2 linked regions of the Homo sapiens genome follow. The protein of the gene in region 2 purifies or fractionates together with the protein of the main gene of each other region. This does not show direct contact. Each region holds a gene or a part of one and is shown on either strand. Other genes may lie near its edges.

Evidence for each region. The genes of interacting proteins can lie anywhere in the genome.
Region 1: the proteins of MLC1 (region 2) and KCNJ10 purify together in Homo sapiens (affinity purification with western blotting, with the first as the bait; 2 studies listed by BioGRID). This does not show direct contact.

What each region holds. Positions count from the first base shown.
Region 1 is NC_000001.11:160,067,160-160,075,017, reverse strand, and holds the start of KCNJ10 (ATP-sensitive inward rectifier potassium channel 10), read left to right. Parts: upstream 1-4,857; 5' UTR 4,858-4,996; intron 4,997-7,858. UniProt on the Homo sapiens protein: May be responsible for potassium buffering action of glial cells in the brain. Inward rectifier potassium channels are characterized by a greater tendency to allow potassium to flow into the cell rather than out of it.
Region 2 is NC_000022.11:50,082,427-50,089,725, forward strand, and holds the start of MLC1 (membrane protein MLC1), read right to left. Parts: upstream 3,001-7,299; 5' UTR 2,929-3,000; exon of another isoform or gene 2,536-2,928; 5' UTR 2,477-2,535; coding exon 2,300-2,476; intron 748-2,299; coding exon 658-747; intron 1-657. UniProt on the Homo sapiens protein: Transmembrane protein mainly expressed in brain astrocytes that may play a role in transport across the blood-brain and brain-cerebrospinal fluid barriers. Regulates the response of astrocytes to hypo-osmosis by promoting calcium influx.

The sequences.
Region 1 (7,858 bases), on a different chromosome or scaffold from region 2:
CCCAAGGCAACGGTGAAGAGTAAAGGTCACTTGTAGTTTTTTATTCTAATTGACCAGGAGTAACACAGAACTAAGGAAGTCACGAGCACTTCCACCTTTGGGGAGGAAGGTACTGAGTTCAGTTTGGGGCCTGTCAAGTCAAGATGGAAATCCCCTGCAAGCAACTAGAAATATGGAGCTCCAAAAAGAGTGTAGGATTGAAGATAGAGATTTGGGCATCACTCAGGGACAATCGTTGGAGCTATGTAAATGACAAAGGCTCAAGGGGCAAGACACAGAAAGAGAACATAAGGCTGAACCTTGAGTGTTAAAAGAAGTAGCTGTAGCTTTGGGTGTATAGGGGCAGTGGAAGAAGATAAGGCTGGAATGGCACCAGGTCCAGGTTATAATAGGCCTTCTCTTCCAGGGAAAGGAACTCGGACTTTACTTATAGATAGTTGGCAGTTACTGAAGGTTTTAAAACTTGGAAGTGGTACGGTCAGATGTGTGTTTCAGAGAGATGTACTTTACTGGTGCTTAATTACTTTCAAATAAAGAAATTCATAATCCAAAGAATTATTAGAGTGGAGGAAGACTGGAGGCAGGGAGAGTAGTTAGAAGGCTGCTGCAGTAGCCCTGGTGTATTAGGCCATTCTTGCATTGCTATAATGAAATACCTGAGATAGGCCATGGTGGCTCAAGCCTGTAATCCAGCATTTTGGGAGGCTGAGGTGGGAGGACTGCTTGAGCTCACAAGTTCAAGACCATCCTGATCTACATAGCGATTCTTCGTCTCTACTGAAAGTTAAAAAAAAAAAAAAATAGCTGGGTGTAATGGTGAACACCTGTAGTTCCAGCTACGTTTGAGGTTGAGGCAGGAAGACTACTTCAGCACAGGAGTTCAGGGTTGCAGTGAGCTGTGATCACACCACTGCACTCCAGCCTAGGGGACAGAGTGAAACCCTGTCTCAAAAAAAAAAAAAAGATTAAAAATTAAAAAAAAAAAAACCCAGAGAGTGGGTAATTTATAAAGAAAAAAGGTTTAATTGGCACACAGTTCTGCAGGATTTACAGGAAGCATGGTGCTGACATCTGCTCAGCTTCTCAGGAGACCTCAGGAAGCTTTTACTTGTGGTGGAAGGCAAAGCAGGAGCAGGCACATCACATGGCAAAAGCAGGAGCAAGAGAGAGTTGATGATGGGGGATGTTGCCATATACTTTTAAACACCCAGATCTCACGAGAACTCACTATCATGAAGATAGCACCAAGCCGCTGAGGGACCTGCCCCCATGATCAAAACACCTCCCACCAGGCCCATGTCCAGCATTGGCATTAAAATCCAGCATGAAATTTGAGCAGGATCAAAGATCCAAACTATTATTACCTGGTGAGAGGTAATGGTGTCCTAGACTACAGCAATGATAGTGGAATAGAGAGGAAGGGGACAATATTGAGGCTATTTAGAATACAGATGCATTGATTCAATAAGGGAGATGAGGTGAGGAAGATTGAAGAATCTAGGATGGCTGCCATGTTTCTGGTTGGGTGATGATAGTGTATCTACCATGGTAGAGAATAAATGGAGAGGAGCACTCTTGTGAGCAAGGTGACATGTTCGACTTTAAATATGTTGAGTTTGAAATGGATATCCGGGTGGGCTGGACATATTGACACATGGGTGGTAGTTGAAGCTAAATGGATGGATAACATTTTTGGAAAAATAATAAGTGCACAATAAATGTCTGTTAATGATCCATAAATCATTACAGTCCCTTTGCTTTCTCTTCTGTGGTGTTCTTCATGTTTATTTTGGAGTTCCACCAGAGCCTCCAAGCTAAGCTTGTCCAACCCACCGCCTGTGGGCTGCATGCAGCCCAGGACAGCTTTGAATGAGGCCCAACACAAATTTGTAAACTTTCTTAAAACATCATGAGGGTTTTTTTTGTGATTTTTTTTTTTTAAAGCTCATCAGCTACTGTTAGTGTTAGTGTATTTTATGTGTGGCCCAAGACAATTCTTCTTCTTCCAATGTGGCCCAGGGAAACCAAAAAATTGGACACCCCTGCCTAAGTCCTCTCTGTCTGTGAATGTCAAGACTGTGGCCCCCTTAAGGATCTTTTGGATGTCCTATTTTTTGAAACTTAAAGGTCTTATACCAGTCTTGCAGGCTGGCCCTCAGACCACCTCACCACAGCCCCTCATCCATATTGACTTAGGAAGAGAGGGCATTCGGAGTGTGAAGAAGAAAAACTGGAAGACTGTTTCTTTTTCTTTTTATTTTGTGTTTTGTTTTGTTTTGTTTTTGGAGACAGAGTCTAGCTCTGTCCCCCAGGCTGGAGTGCAGTGGCGTGATCTCGGCTCACTGCAACCTCTGCCTCCCAGGTTCAAGCGATTCACATGCCTCAGTCTCCCAAGTAGCTGGGATTACAGGCGCGTGCCACCAGGCCCGGCTAATTTTTGTATTTTTAGTAGAGATGGGTTTTTGCCATGTTGGCCAGGCTGGTCTCAAACTCCTGACCTCAGGTGATCCACCCACCTTGGCCTCCCAAAGTGCTGGGATTACAGGCATGAGCCACCTGGCCTGGCCTGTTTCTAGTACATTGTCTGGTTTCTATTTCTCTCCTCTCTATGAGTAGAGTTCTCAAAAGTGTAACCTATACTTGCTGACAGTTTCTCACTTTCTAGTGGTAACTTGTAATCTGGTTCCCACCTTGCTCACTCTTCTGAAATTGCTCTCAAATGTCACTAGAGACTTTGTCACTGCCAAACCCAATGCCTCTTCTCTCTGTACTTGTTGGCACTGTTAGAACCTCCTCCTTAACAGTCTCTCCTTCCTTAGCTCCATGACATCTCACTTTCTTTGTCTCCTTCCTGCCTGTCTGGTGGATTCTCTTTCACTCTTTGGGGGTCCTTCTTCTTCCCATCCCCTAAACATAGGTGTTCCTCACTCTCTGTGCCAGGCTCTCATTTCTCTGTGCAGTCTTTGTTGGGATCTACCCTGTTCTCATAGCTTCAACTCACACTGCCCTGGCAGCAATGACCTCCTTTCTCTCTCTGGTTCTGACCCCTCTCCACAGCTTCCAGCTCTGAACTCATCACTTCCTCTTCCCCCACCTCAGTCTCCTCACCAGGTGTGATCCCCCCCAGGCTCCCCTATGCCCGTGAATGACCTCGCAGTTCTGATCACCTGACTTGAGACTCTAGTATGATCTCTGAAGCTTCCCTCTTTTGCTCAACATGTCAAGTTGGCTTCAAACTTTTTTCATTTTCTTTTGATTTTTCTGTACTCCAATTCATTTTCTGTGTTCCACTTTTCACCATTGCCACGCTGATTTGGGCTGTCATCTCTTCATGCTTATATTATTGCAATTATTTTCTATCGTCTACTTGCCTACTATATCCACTTGGTTCAAACTATTTTGTCACCTCCCGATTAATTTTCCTAAAATGCCATAGCTTTCTCCTACTCCATCCTTCCCAAGAACCTTCAATTGCTCTCCGTAGCCTACAGAAACTCTGGCCTGACCACAAATCAGCACAACTCTGTGTTTCTTCCGGATGTTCCCCTTAACACAAACACTGCCTATGGTGCCTAACCTTTAGTCCCGTCCTTCCAGCTTCTCCAATGAGGCTATTTGAATGGACATTTACTTATCTTATGGCTTTTAGTGGTTAAACTAAGCTACATTCCTAGTTTCTTTCCTTTTTTTACCTGAATTTATAGCAATTCAATATGGTAACACTGGTTATTGATTAGCAGTTAAATGTTTATGATGATCAGAAATGAGGAAATAATTATATTCTTTTTAAATAAATGCTGGGGGTGGGGGTGAATTAAAACCTCTCAACACATAGATTCAGAAAATTAAAGAAATCTTTGGTGATGAAAGGGTTGAGAACCATCACCCTGCACTCTAATCTAGTAAATGGGACAGTTTGATGCTGTTTCCCAAGTGAACTTGTATTTTCACGTCTCCCCAGGACTCTGCTACGTTGTTCCCTCTGCCTTAAATGCAACAGAGTCCTGGGGACCATCTCTCAGCACCTGAATCTTCTGCTTCCTTTGGGACCCTAATCAGATGTTACCTCTTTCCTCCCACATCTGCTAGGAGCCCTCTGAGTAGAATGACCTCTCCCTTTTACAGCCTTCAGTACCTCCCGCACTTCGCTGAGGGTTCCGGCCTTATCTTTCCTTACAGAGAAAGCCGCTGCAGGTGGGCACCGTGTGCTGCGCGTCTCTCACCCAGCACCGCACCGGGGACTTAGGAGACGGTGAACAACACGGGAATTGTGCCCAAAGATACAGTCCTGTGGCTCAGGGAGCCCAGGCCTACTCCGCCCCAATCTCACTTCCAGGCGCCGCCTTCGGCGCTGCCTGCAGGGCCACTGGGCCGGTCCTGAATTCATTTCCACTTCGTTAACTCGGTCCCAGTCCCGCCCCCCGGCTCCAGCTCTCGTAACCCATCGCTGACAGGACCGCCTCCCTTTTCTTCCTTCTCCCTTCCCCTGTCACCCTGCCAGCTCAGCTCCTATCGTTTCGCATATCGTCTCTTCATCTCTCTTTCTCCCCGGGTCTGTCTGGGTCTCTGTCTTTGGATATTTCTCTCTGCGCCTGCAGCTGTCTGGGTCTCCGCTTCCTTGCCCCGCACGCCCCGCCCCCTGCCCAAGACCCTCCAATCTCGGCGGCTCGAGCCTGGCGCTCCACTCTCCCATTGGTCTGTTCGGAGCCCCCCGCCCCCGCCTGCCCGGCCCCCCTCCGGGCCCCTCCATTCACACAAAGTTTGGCTCCGGCGCTGCGGAGGGAGGGGGCGGCCCGGCCCGGCCCAGCTCTGCCCCCGGCCGGCCCGACCCCGGCCCCGGCCCCCGGACAAGCCCTTATCTGATCCCAGCTCCGGGTTTAAGAGTCCTGGCCCGGCCCGTCGCACAGCTCTGCTCCTAACTCCTGCCCGCCCCGTCCGTCCATCTGTCCCGCTGCCCCGCGGCCCATCCAAGGGGCCACTCCACCTCGGACCCAAGGTAAGACCCTGGCCCTGATGAAGGAGTTCTGCCGCCCCGGCCGGGTCCTGTCCCCCTAACTCTCCAGAGACATCGGGGTCCCAGATCCTCAGTCCCTACCCTGCCTGGCCTCAGCGGTACCACCGTCTTGTTCCCCTGCCTCCCGCCTTGGGCAGTCCCAAATGGAGCCTCCTGGGAAGGGCTCCCCACGAGGAAACTAGCCAGGCTGGTCACCTCAGCCCTTTCATCTAAGGAAGGGGCTTTCCCGATGCCCCCTCCCACTGGGCAGACCAGCAGTTGCATCCCTGCTCCTCTAGTTAATACAGTGACAACCACACATAACCAGGCACCCCATACACAGGCACAACAGACAGTGCGCCCTCCTCCCCATATGGACAGGTTACTCCCATCCCCAGCCCCTCCCCCACTCCCCATACAGTGACAATCACATAGTGACACCCATGATCGCTAGTTCCCACATGGGGAGAAAAACAGATACTGGCAGCTTAAACCGGGGAGCCACCAAAGCCTGGTGTGCTCCAGACCCCTGCCCACCCAATCTCTTCCTTCTATTCTGAGTGGCTCCCATTTTAAGACATCCCTCCTCATGGCCCCTCACCCTCACCCCAGCTGTTTCGCACTGGGATTTCCAGAAGGAAAGGAGCAGGGCCACTTCTGCTAGAGTGAGAAGGGCAGATTGGGTTCTATAAACTCACCCTCCAGATGGAGACGCCCCTTCCCATTCCATTCCTCCTCTCATCAGAACTAACCCAGGGCACCTGTGTTAGGGAACAGATGAAGGATGGAACTTCCTGATTTGGGGGAGGAGAGCTGAACCCAGGAATGGGTAGAAGGACAACACTGGGAAAAAGTGAGGGTGGGTTCTGGTGTCTTGAAGTTTAATTCCAGTGAGTGCCCCAGGCAGGGTGAGGCAGATGGGGAAGAAGCTGGTGCAGATTTGGACCCCAAAGAGGCCAGTGCTTAAAGCCTGCTTCTGTTGCTTACCAATACAAATTCTGACTAAAGATGTCTGGCCAGTCTGCTCTTGCTGTGGTGTTTGAATTTTTTTTCTCCCCACTGGGACTGCTTTAGGCTGCCTGGGTGGGAGGGAGATAATGACAGGAGATTTAGGGCCCCCATGTGAGAGATGGCCTTGTTTAAGGGTGCTGAGGAGGGCCTGGAGTGGTTGTCATGAAATTAGCCCCAGGAGGGGTGGGCAGCCACCAGTGAGTTCAATTTAGTTTCATCCTGAAACTCTCTCCCTAATCTCCAAGGATTTTTGAACATATTCCTGGCATGATGGTGGGTACCATCCTGTGCCAAGTGGTAGGGCTTGTAAATTTCTCTGGGGGTAGACTGGGTATAGGGGACCAAGTTTGGAAGGAACCAGGCATCCTGACTCATAGCTGGTTCTTCAGGGAGGAAGAAACGAGGGAGGAGGGGGATGGAAGGCATCATGCCAGGGAGAGGGTCCAGGGCTGGATTGTGGAGGCAATAGGCACGGCCCAGGCAGTGCCAACTCCTTTCCCCGCTGCCTTCCCCCAGTCCTTTGGTGGTGGTGGCAAGGGAGGAAGGGAGGGAGAGGGTGTTGGGGGGTGATCTGGGCTGGTCCAGCCTCCCAAAGCCCTTGCCAACCTGGGTCCTGAAAGGAGCTGCTGTTTTCTGAGCCATCCCCCCACCCCCCACTCAGAGCCTGAGCAGCCAAGTTGTCTCAGCGGATATCAAATGGCAATGACTCCACCGATGGAGGGTGGGTGGGGAGTGGGAGTGGCAGGGGTAGCAGGGTTATGGTTCCAGCCCCTCTGTGGCTCTAATGCAGAACCCCTCTGCTATCCCTTACCCTGAGGAAAAAATAAATCCATCTTCCCCAACATCTGACCCACATCCAGTCTATGGGTGCATATGTTTGTGTGAGGGGATTAATGATCTGCCCGCTGGTATCCCCTACCTCCTCCGTGTGCCCCATTGAACCACATTCTAGCTCCCTCCCACCTGCATCACTGTGCATAAGCTCATTTACAGCTCCAGCTTGGTTGGCTTGAGCTACAAGGAAGTGACTGGCAGAGGACCCGGGGACCTTCCTTCCCTTGACCTTCCTTGGGACCAGAGAGGCTGGGACACTTGGATCACGGTGGGCTCAGATGAAGTCCTCTGGAGTCATTCTGTGATTGGCAGGATAGGGGGTTTAAAGCTCTAGGGGGTGGGTCATGCAGAAAGATCTGTTTCCTCAAAGGATACTCCTGAGCCTCCTGGTAAAACTCTTGGTTTCTGCACACAAGATGGAAAGATAGGCCGAGCCTCCTGGCATTGGTGGGGAGGAAAAGAGACATTGGGCAATGGAGTCCCTAAGCTTTCCAGCCACAGGTTATTTAGGACGGAAGAAAAAAACCTCCACTCTCCCTCCCCTCCTCGGCCTAGATTCTTCTCTTGCCTGACTGGTCAGTGCTACTGTCCAGGCTGAGGCCAAGCTGTCCAGGATAGCAGTGGGGCCCTGGAAGGGGGCAGAGAAGGAATCAGCCAAGGCACATCGTTGAGATGAAACTACAGAAAGATTGGAGAGGAAAGGGAGATTTAAAATCTAAGTGTTTTAGCACCCAATGGTGGGTGGTTGGCTGGGCAGCTCCTGGGAATGGGAGTTTGCCATGTCACTTCGGTCTCTCCAGCAGGCTGAGTTCAATGCTTTTCTTCCCTCATTTGAGTTTAGCCTACATGTTTGCCACCATTCTTTAGGGAGAGAGTGCATCTGGTGGCCCCTCTTCCTCCCCTCCCCCATCAGAACCTTGAAAGGGCAAAGAGAAAGGGATTGTGGGAAATGCCCTCCCGTGGGTGTTTGCCAGCTTGGAGCCTGGATTTGAGGTGGTGGGGGAAGGGAGGGGCTGGCTC
Region 2 (7,299 bases):
CTGTGTAAGTTTCTAAAAACACAACATGAAGCTTTGGGAGGATGTGGGGCACAGGTCCCAGTCCCCTGAGGGCAGATGCTGCCAGCTCTGGCAGGACGCAGCCGCAGGCTCAGAATCAACACGCAATTCCCTGCACAGGCGTCTGCAGAGCAAGGTTCAGGCCTGCTTCATCAGTAATTCTCAAAGGTGATGAACTCTACGTGAAACTAAAGTCATATGAAGAGTTTTTTGTTTTTTTCTTGTTGTTGTTGTTTTGAGACGAAGTTTCACTCTCATTGCCCAGGCTGGAGTGCAGTGGCACAATCTGGGCTCACTGCAACCTCCGCCTCCCAGGTTCAAGCGATTCTCCTGCCTCAGCCTCCTGAGTAGCTGGGAGTACAGGCACCCACCACCGCGCCCAGCTAATTTTTGTATTTTTAGTAGAGATGGGGTTTGTCCATGTTGGTCAGACTGGTCTCAAACACCTGACCTCAGGTGATCCACCCACCTCCACCCCTCAAAGTGCTGGCATGACAGCCATGAGCCACTGTGCCCGGCCCATATGAAGAGGTTTGAATGAGGTACAGGTGACAGAAACCTGCACATCTCAGAACAAAGAAACCAGAGCACGTGCCGGCGAGCTTGGGCACTGGCAGAGGCGTGGAGGAAGCTGCTTACAGAGCCTGCAGCACAGCGCAAGTAATCCATCTCAGCCGGGAACACGTTCCCCAGGTACAGCGAAAACCCCGAGGTCACCAGGAGGCAGCTCTGCAAGACAGCGACAGAATCCCAGGTTACAACGCGCCCCGTCCCCAGGCTGGACCCTGACCCTTCAACTTCTGCTTCACTGTCTGTGTATTGGTGACTCACCCACGTCCCCCAGCATCAACCACACCCGCACCTGGGACCCGCCCATCCTGGACTCCTCCTGTAGGACAGACGCAGCCCCGCCGCAGCCCAGGACATGGACCAGCCTCCCCCAGCCATGTCGGAGCATGGACCCCCCACGCTGTTATCTGGAGGAGAGAAGAAAGGGGATCTGCCAATATTTAGAGCAAGGAATGGCACCTCTCCCCACAAAATACTCCTGCCCCAACATGTTGTGCGTGCAGTCTTCCAGATCCCACACCCAGGTCCAGACACGAGACTGGAAAACAACTGCCCATCCCCCTCCGTCTGCAGAACCTAATTTCCAGATCTGGAAGAAGATCCCTCCAGGCAGGGGCTCCAGGCCCAGGGGCTCCTGAGCAGGGAAGACCCTAGCAGGAGGCAGGGAGGGTGCTCTCTCTCACGCACAGCACTGCAGGGGTGCGGTGGGGAGGGGGCTCTCTCTCACGCACAGCACCCCCGGGGTGAGTCTGAGGGGAGTCAGTATCAAAGGTCACTGGGACCCAGGGTCCTGGCAGAGGAAGCGAGGTCTGGGGCAGAGGGGATCTGGCCTGGGCGGGGGAGGGGCTGCGACCAAGTCCAGGGCACCAGGTGGAGGAGGGCAGAGCCCGGAGATGGCCACCACCACCCGGGAGCCGCCTCTGTCCCCAGCTCCGAGGCAGACGCCTGTCTTGGTGGGGCATGCTCAGGCCACGGGAGGTGGGCAGGACCACTGTGGGTGCTGCAGGGGCTGCCGGCGGAGGCCAGGGCACAGGGAGGGGAGAAATCACAGCCTGGATCTCATTCTCAGCCCAAGCTACACGGAACCGGGGGTCCCTGCATAGAGGCCTGTCCTGCAGCATGGCTCTGAGCAGCTGCACACACTCAGGCCCAAGTGGCTCCTCCAATCATCTCTGTGCCCACGACTGTGCAGGGAATGGCCAGGACCCCAGGGAAATCCCTCGGACATCTGGCGCTGCCCGTCCACCCCAGACCTGTTCCTTTGTTCCCCAGCTCCCTCCCAGCCGGCCCCTGAGGCCCTCCCTAGGAGGAGGAGGTCCCTGAGGTTCTCTCTGTGAGGGCCGACCTGAAGGCCTGAGACGCCTCCTCCCACCTTTGCAGGTGACCCCTCAGAGGACCCTGGGCCCCCAGAGCCGAGGGTCATGGAGACTCCTGGGGCCCATTCATGGCCCTGGGACTGTCCCTACCCTGGTGGGACTAAGCCACAACCTGGAGCAGCTCAAGGCTGGCACAACAGACACCCATAAATTAATAAAAATAATTGTGAAAACACAAGCAAAACAAGCTCGTCGGCATCCAAGAGTTCTGCAGCAGCAGGGTTAGTCTGAGAGTTGCTCTCTCTGTCCCACCTGGGGCTCCAGGGCGCTGCAGTCCGTCACCAGAGGGACCAGATGCTCGTGGCCCTCCAAGGGCTTAGTGTGGAGCTACTCACCCCCATCAGCACAGAGAAGACCCACGTCTTGTGGCTGAAGCAGGGGGGCAGTCTCTTCGACAGCTGCAGGTCGCTCGGCTTCGCGTCTGGGGCATAGCTGGCGGGGTCTTGCCGGCCCCGCTCCAGCGTGGGCATCCGGTCATAGGCCAGCTCCTCTCTGAATGGCTCCTGGGTCATGGCACTTGGGGACACCACAGCTGTGCTGAATGTACAGCCACGTGTCACCAGTTCTTTATCTGGAATAAAATTATCATCGGCTTTGGCCACTCTGAGGAAACTTCAATAAGTTGTTTCCAAGAAATATTTTTTAACAAAAGAAATATTGTTCATACTGAAGTGCTCTAAATTTGAAGAAGAAAATGAGCACTTGAATCTAAAAGTGAAAAAGAAATAACTTTCCTAGAAAAACGGACCTGAATAGTCTGGGTTCAGGGTGAGATTCTACACTTTAAATGCCTCATTGATCCATCTGGGCCCTCCAGGTGCAACACCTGACAACATCCATCGGCAACTTCGTCCATGAACACATCACGCCGGGGACTCAAGCACGTTAAACTGCTCCAATTGGTAGCTAAACGAGAGATTGCAAAACATGCCTCTACTCAACGGCTTAATGTCTGAGCACTTACCTCCCCCGCTGCTCTGCCGTTGGGAGCACTGGTCTCTGGGTGAGGGACTTCCAGCAAGAAGTATTCACAAATGAAACAAAAGCTCAGCAAACTTGAGCTGAAGGCAGGGGAAGGAGAGCTGCTTCCTGAATATCAATGAGGGGAGGAATCGGGTGGATCGTAGAAATGTTTCGTGTTGGTTGTGTAAACCACTGCCTCGGAGCTGTCAGAACCCAACTAGGAAAGGAAGGGGCCCTGCCTGTGCCACTCGCCACAGAGCTCGGGTCTCTCAGAAGAAAGAAGCGTCCCTAAGAATAGAATCCCACCAAGTACACATTCTGAGCAGGCTCTGTTTCTGAAACGTAACTGTTTACTCGAAGGTCTTCTACATCTTTCCAAGTAGCCTTTTTCCATCCCCCACAGCCACACGGTGGGAACCTCCTTCACACGGTCACATAAGCATTCACGCACTCGGCTTAGCTGTGTGGCCTTGGGCGGCTCCGGATTCGGCCCTGTGGTTTGCGTGGGCAGCCCGGATGGCTGGTGGGCCCGGTCCTGCTGCCCCCTTTATCTCTGCTCACCAAGCAGAGAAAAACCACAGTAATGTGTGTCGCCCAGAGACACTGGCACCCTGACAACTACAGCAACGGGTTCTTTGTGCACATTGTAAAAAGGCTCAAACTAAAGTTTCTGAAAAACCAGCTCCTTAAACCATGAACCCACATTAAAACTTGAGCAAAGTCATCAGGTTCCAGACCATGGGATGTTCTGTTGTCTTCGTTTCAATCAAGCAAGAAGCTTTTAGTAAGCTTTTATTAGCTTTTAGTAAGTTTTTATTAGCTTTTAGTAAGATTACACATACAAGCATCCCTGTCCCAGTGAAAATGCCCACTAAATCACCTCGATCAAAATGCGTAAGTGTCAAGTACGCATAAATGCAGCTCAAAACACTTTGCTCAACCTCACCCCCACAGGAAACAGCAGTGATAAATTTTTAGCAATAAACGAAAGTTTAAGCTATACTAGTATTTTAGGGTTAGTTAATTTTGTGCCAGCCACCACAGCCAATGTTCTGTTGTCTTCATTTCAATCAAGCAAGGATGAGAAATAATTTTCAAAAACTATAATCTGTGAAGTCAAGAACTCATTTTAATGGATTGAGAAACCTCCCAAACTTCACTATCTTTTAAAGCGATAAACGGGATTAGTGGGAGTGGGTCCAACTGGATCGAATCCTCCTGTGTTTCTTTTTGTTTGGAAAAAAATGTTAATCGGATTTCAACATTTTTTTCTTTCAAAAGTTGCTCTCCACTTAGAAATACAAACAAGCTGCCCTGAACCAGAGGTTGCAGAGCAAATCCCTCAGCTTCCCAGATCATAAGTCATCACTTGAGAAATGCTCCCAAGTTTCTGTTGGCAACACTAGTTTCTAGAACAGGCCCTGTTCTTTCATACAATCTTCCAACAAATTCTTGCTCCTAAAATGCCCTTCATCCCTCTGCCTGCTGATGTCCCATCATCATTCAACATTCAACAAACATTTATGGGGTGGACAAAGAAGTGACGTCCTTCCTATAGGCTGTTTACATTCATTGGGGGCACAGGAGTGCACAGGATAAACAAATTAGTGTGTTATACAGTGATATGGTTTGGCTGTGTCCCCACTCAAATCTCATCTTGAATTGTAATTCCCATAATTCCTACATGTCGTGGAAGGGGCCCGGTGGGAGGTAATTGAATCATGGGGGTGGTTACCCCCATGCTGCTGTTCTCCTGACAATGAGTGAGGTCTTATGAGATCTGATGGTCTTTTATAAGGGGCTTTCCCCGCTTTTGCTCAAGACTTCTCCTTCCTGCCACCTTGTGAAGAAGGACATGTTTGCTTCCCCTTCCACCATGATTGTAAGTTTCCTGAGGCCTCCTCAGCCCTGTGGAACTGTGAGTCAATTAAAGCTCTTTCCTTTATAAGGACTTGACTCTAAAATTACCCAGTCTTGGGTATGTCCTTATAGCAGCGTGAGAACAGACTAATGCATCCAGTGACACACATGATTTCCTCTATGAGGGAAAAGAAGTCAGGGGAGAGAAATGAGGGGCTGCTGTTTGCAGGGGCCAGGGCAGGCCTCAGTGAGAAGGAGGCAGGGAGGGGAGGCTGGCAGAGTTGAAGCAAAGGCCACAGGTTGGGGAAGGCAGGCGAGGACCATGCAAGGGGGATACAGGTAGGACAGCCAGGTGCCAGCACCTGTGGGTATGGAGACGACTCTGCTTCAACTCTGAGACAGACCTGCTGGAGGGGTCTGGGCAGAGCAGCATCCGGTCACTCACTGGGTGGAGAGCAGGCTGGGGGGTGGGAGGAGCAGGTGCTGCCTGGCATTGAGGTGGCAGTGGGCAAGTGGTGAGGAGGGACTGGGCTCTGAACAGGGTTTGAAGAGCGGACGCAATCTGCTGTCAGGGCGACGTTGCTGAGTTCTGTCTGAGCAGTGAGGACAGAGATGAGAAGACCAGGGTGGAGCAGGTGTGGAGCGAGGATCTGGAGTTCCATTCTGGACATGATGAGGCCGAGATGTCTGTGGGCATCTGCCGGGTCTACTGAGTCCAGAATCCCAGGGAGTGGCCCGAGCTGGGGAGCTGAGGGGCAGCCCTGCAGGCACAGCACCCGCTGCGAGCTGCCCTGGCAGGGAGCCCATGAGCCACCAGCCCTCATGCAGCTCGCTCTTGTTTCCAAGCTAATCTCCCACCAACCAGTAGGTCCCTGGGACCCTGCTGGCTCCTGTATGTGTTCCAGCACCCAGCCCAAGACACAGGCTTAGCGGGGATTTGAAATGCTAGGGAGTGCGCCACTCTCTCCCTTCCCACAGCAAGAACTATCAGTACACTCTGCATCCATGGACAGGCAAGGTCCAGGCTGTCATCAGACTGACAGATCTGACCTAGGAAAATAAAGCTATGTCAATCAAAAATAAGTCGGGGCTGGGCGCAGTGGCTCACACCTGTAATCCCAGCACTCGGGAGGCCAAGGCGGGTGGATCACCTGCGGGTCAGAAGTTCGAGACCAGCCTGACCAACATGGTAAAACCTTGTCGCTACTAAAAATACAAAAAAAAAAAAAAAAAAAAAAAAAAAAAAAAGCCAGCGTGGTGGCGCACGCCTGTAATCCCAGCTGCTCTGGAGGCTGAGGCAGGAGAATCACTTGAACCCGGGAGGTGGAGGCTACAGTGAGCTAAGATCATGCCACTGCATTCCAGCCTGGGCGACGGAGCAGGACTCCATCTCAAAAAAAAAAAAAAAGAAATAATAAAAAACAGAAACCACTGGAATAGTAAAGATATATATACGTATTTTGTTTTTGTTTTTGTTTTGAGGCAGAGTCTTGCTCTGTCTCCCAGGCTGGAGTGTAGTGGTGTGATCTCAGCTCACTGCAACCTCCACCTCCTGGGTTCAAGTGATTCTTCTGCTTCAGCCTCCCAAGTAGTTGGGATTACAGGCATGCGCCACCATGCCTGGCTAATTTTTTTTGTATTTTTTTGTAGAGACAGGATTTTGGCAGGTTGACCAGGCTGGTCTCGAACTCCTGACCTCAAGTGATCTGCTCACCTTGGCCTCGCAAAGTGTAAAGATATTTTTAAAATAGAGAAAAATCAATGAAATCAAGGGATGATTTTTTTTAAAAACTCAATAAAATTGATAAATATAGACTGATCAAGGAAAATGAGAGGGATGAGATAAATTACCTATGTCAAGAATGAAAGATGGCTCATCATTATGGACCATACAGACGTTAAAAGGATAATAAGGAAATATGCTGAACAACTTTATGCCAATAATCTGACATCTAATAATTGGATGAAATGGACAAATTCCTTAAAAGAATTACCAAAGTTTATTCAATATTACCTTGATAACTTGAATAGCCCTCTAGCTGATGCAGAAGTGAATTTCTCATTAAAAACCTTCCCACAAAGAAATCTCGAAGCCCAAATGGGTTCCCCAGCGAATACTACCACAATTTTTAGGGAATAAGTTACCCCATCCTACTCCCAGGTCACTGCAGGCCCGGCTTAAACCGACCCCAAACCAGACAGACACAGAAAACGGGAGGTCGGCCACAGAGCAATCTGCTTCACCAGCACCGTCCCCAACCTTGGACAAAGCGTTACCAAGCTGAGTCAGGCAATACACCAAAAGGATAACGAATCGTGACCAAGTGAGTTTTCCAAGGAGAGCCAAACAATGTAATTCCCTATGGGCTGAAATAAAAAGCTACAGGATCATTTGAATACATGCAGAAAAGCGTTGCAGAAAATTTCACACCCACTCATAAGAACTCTTGGAAAAACAGGAATAGAGGGAACTTCCTCAACTTGATAAAAAACACCAACAAAAAACGACTCC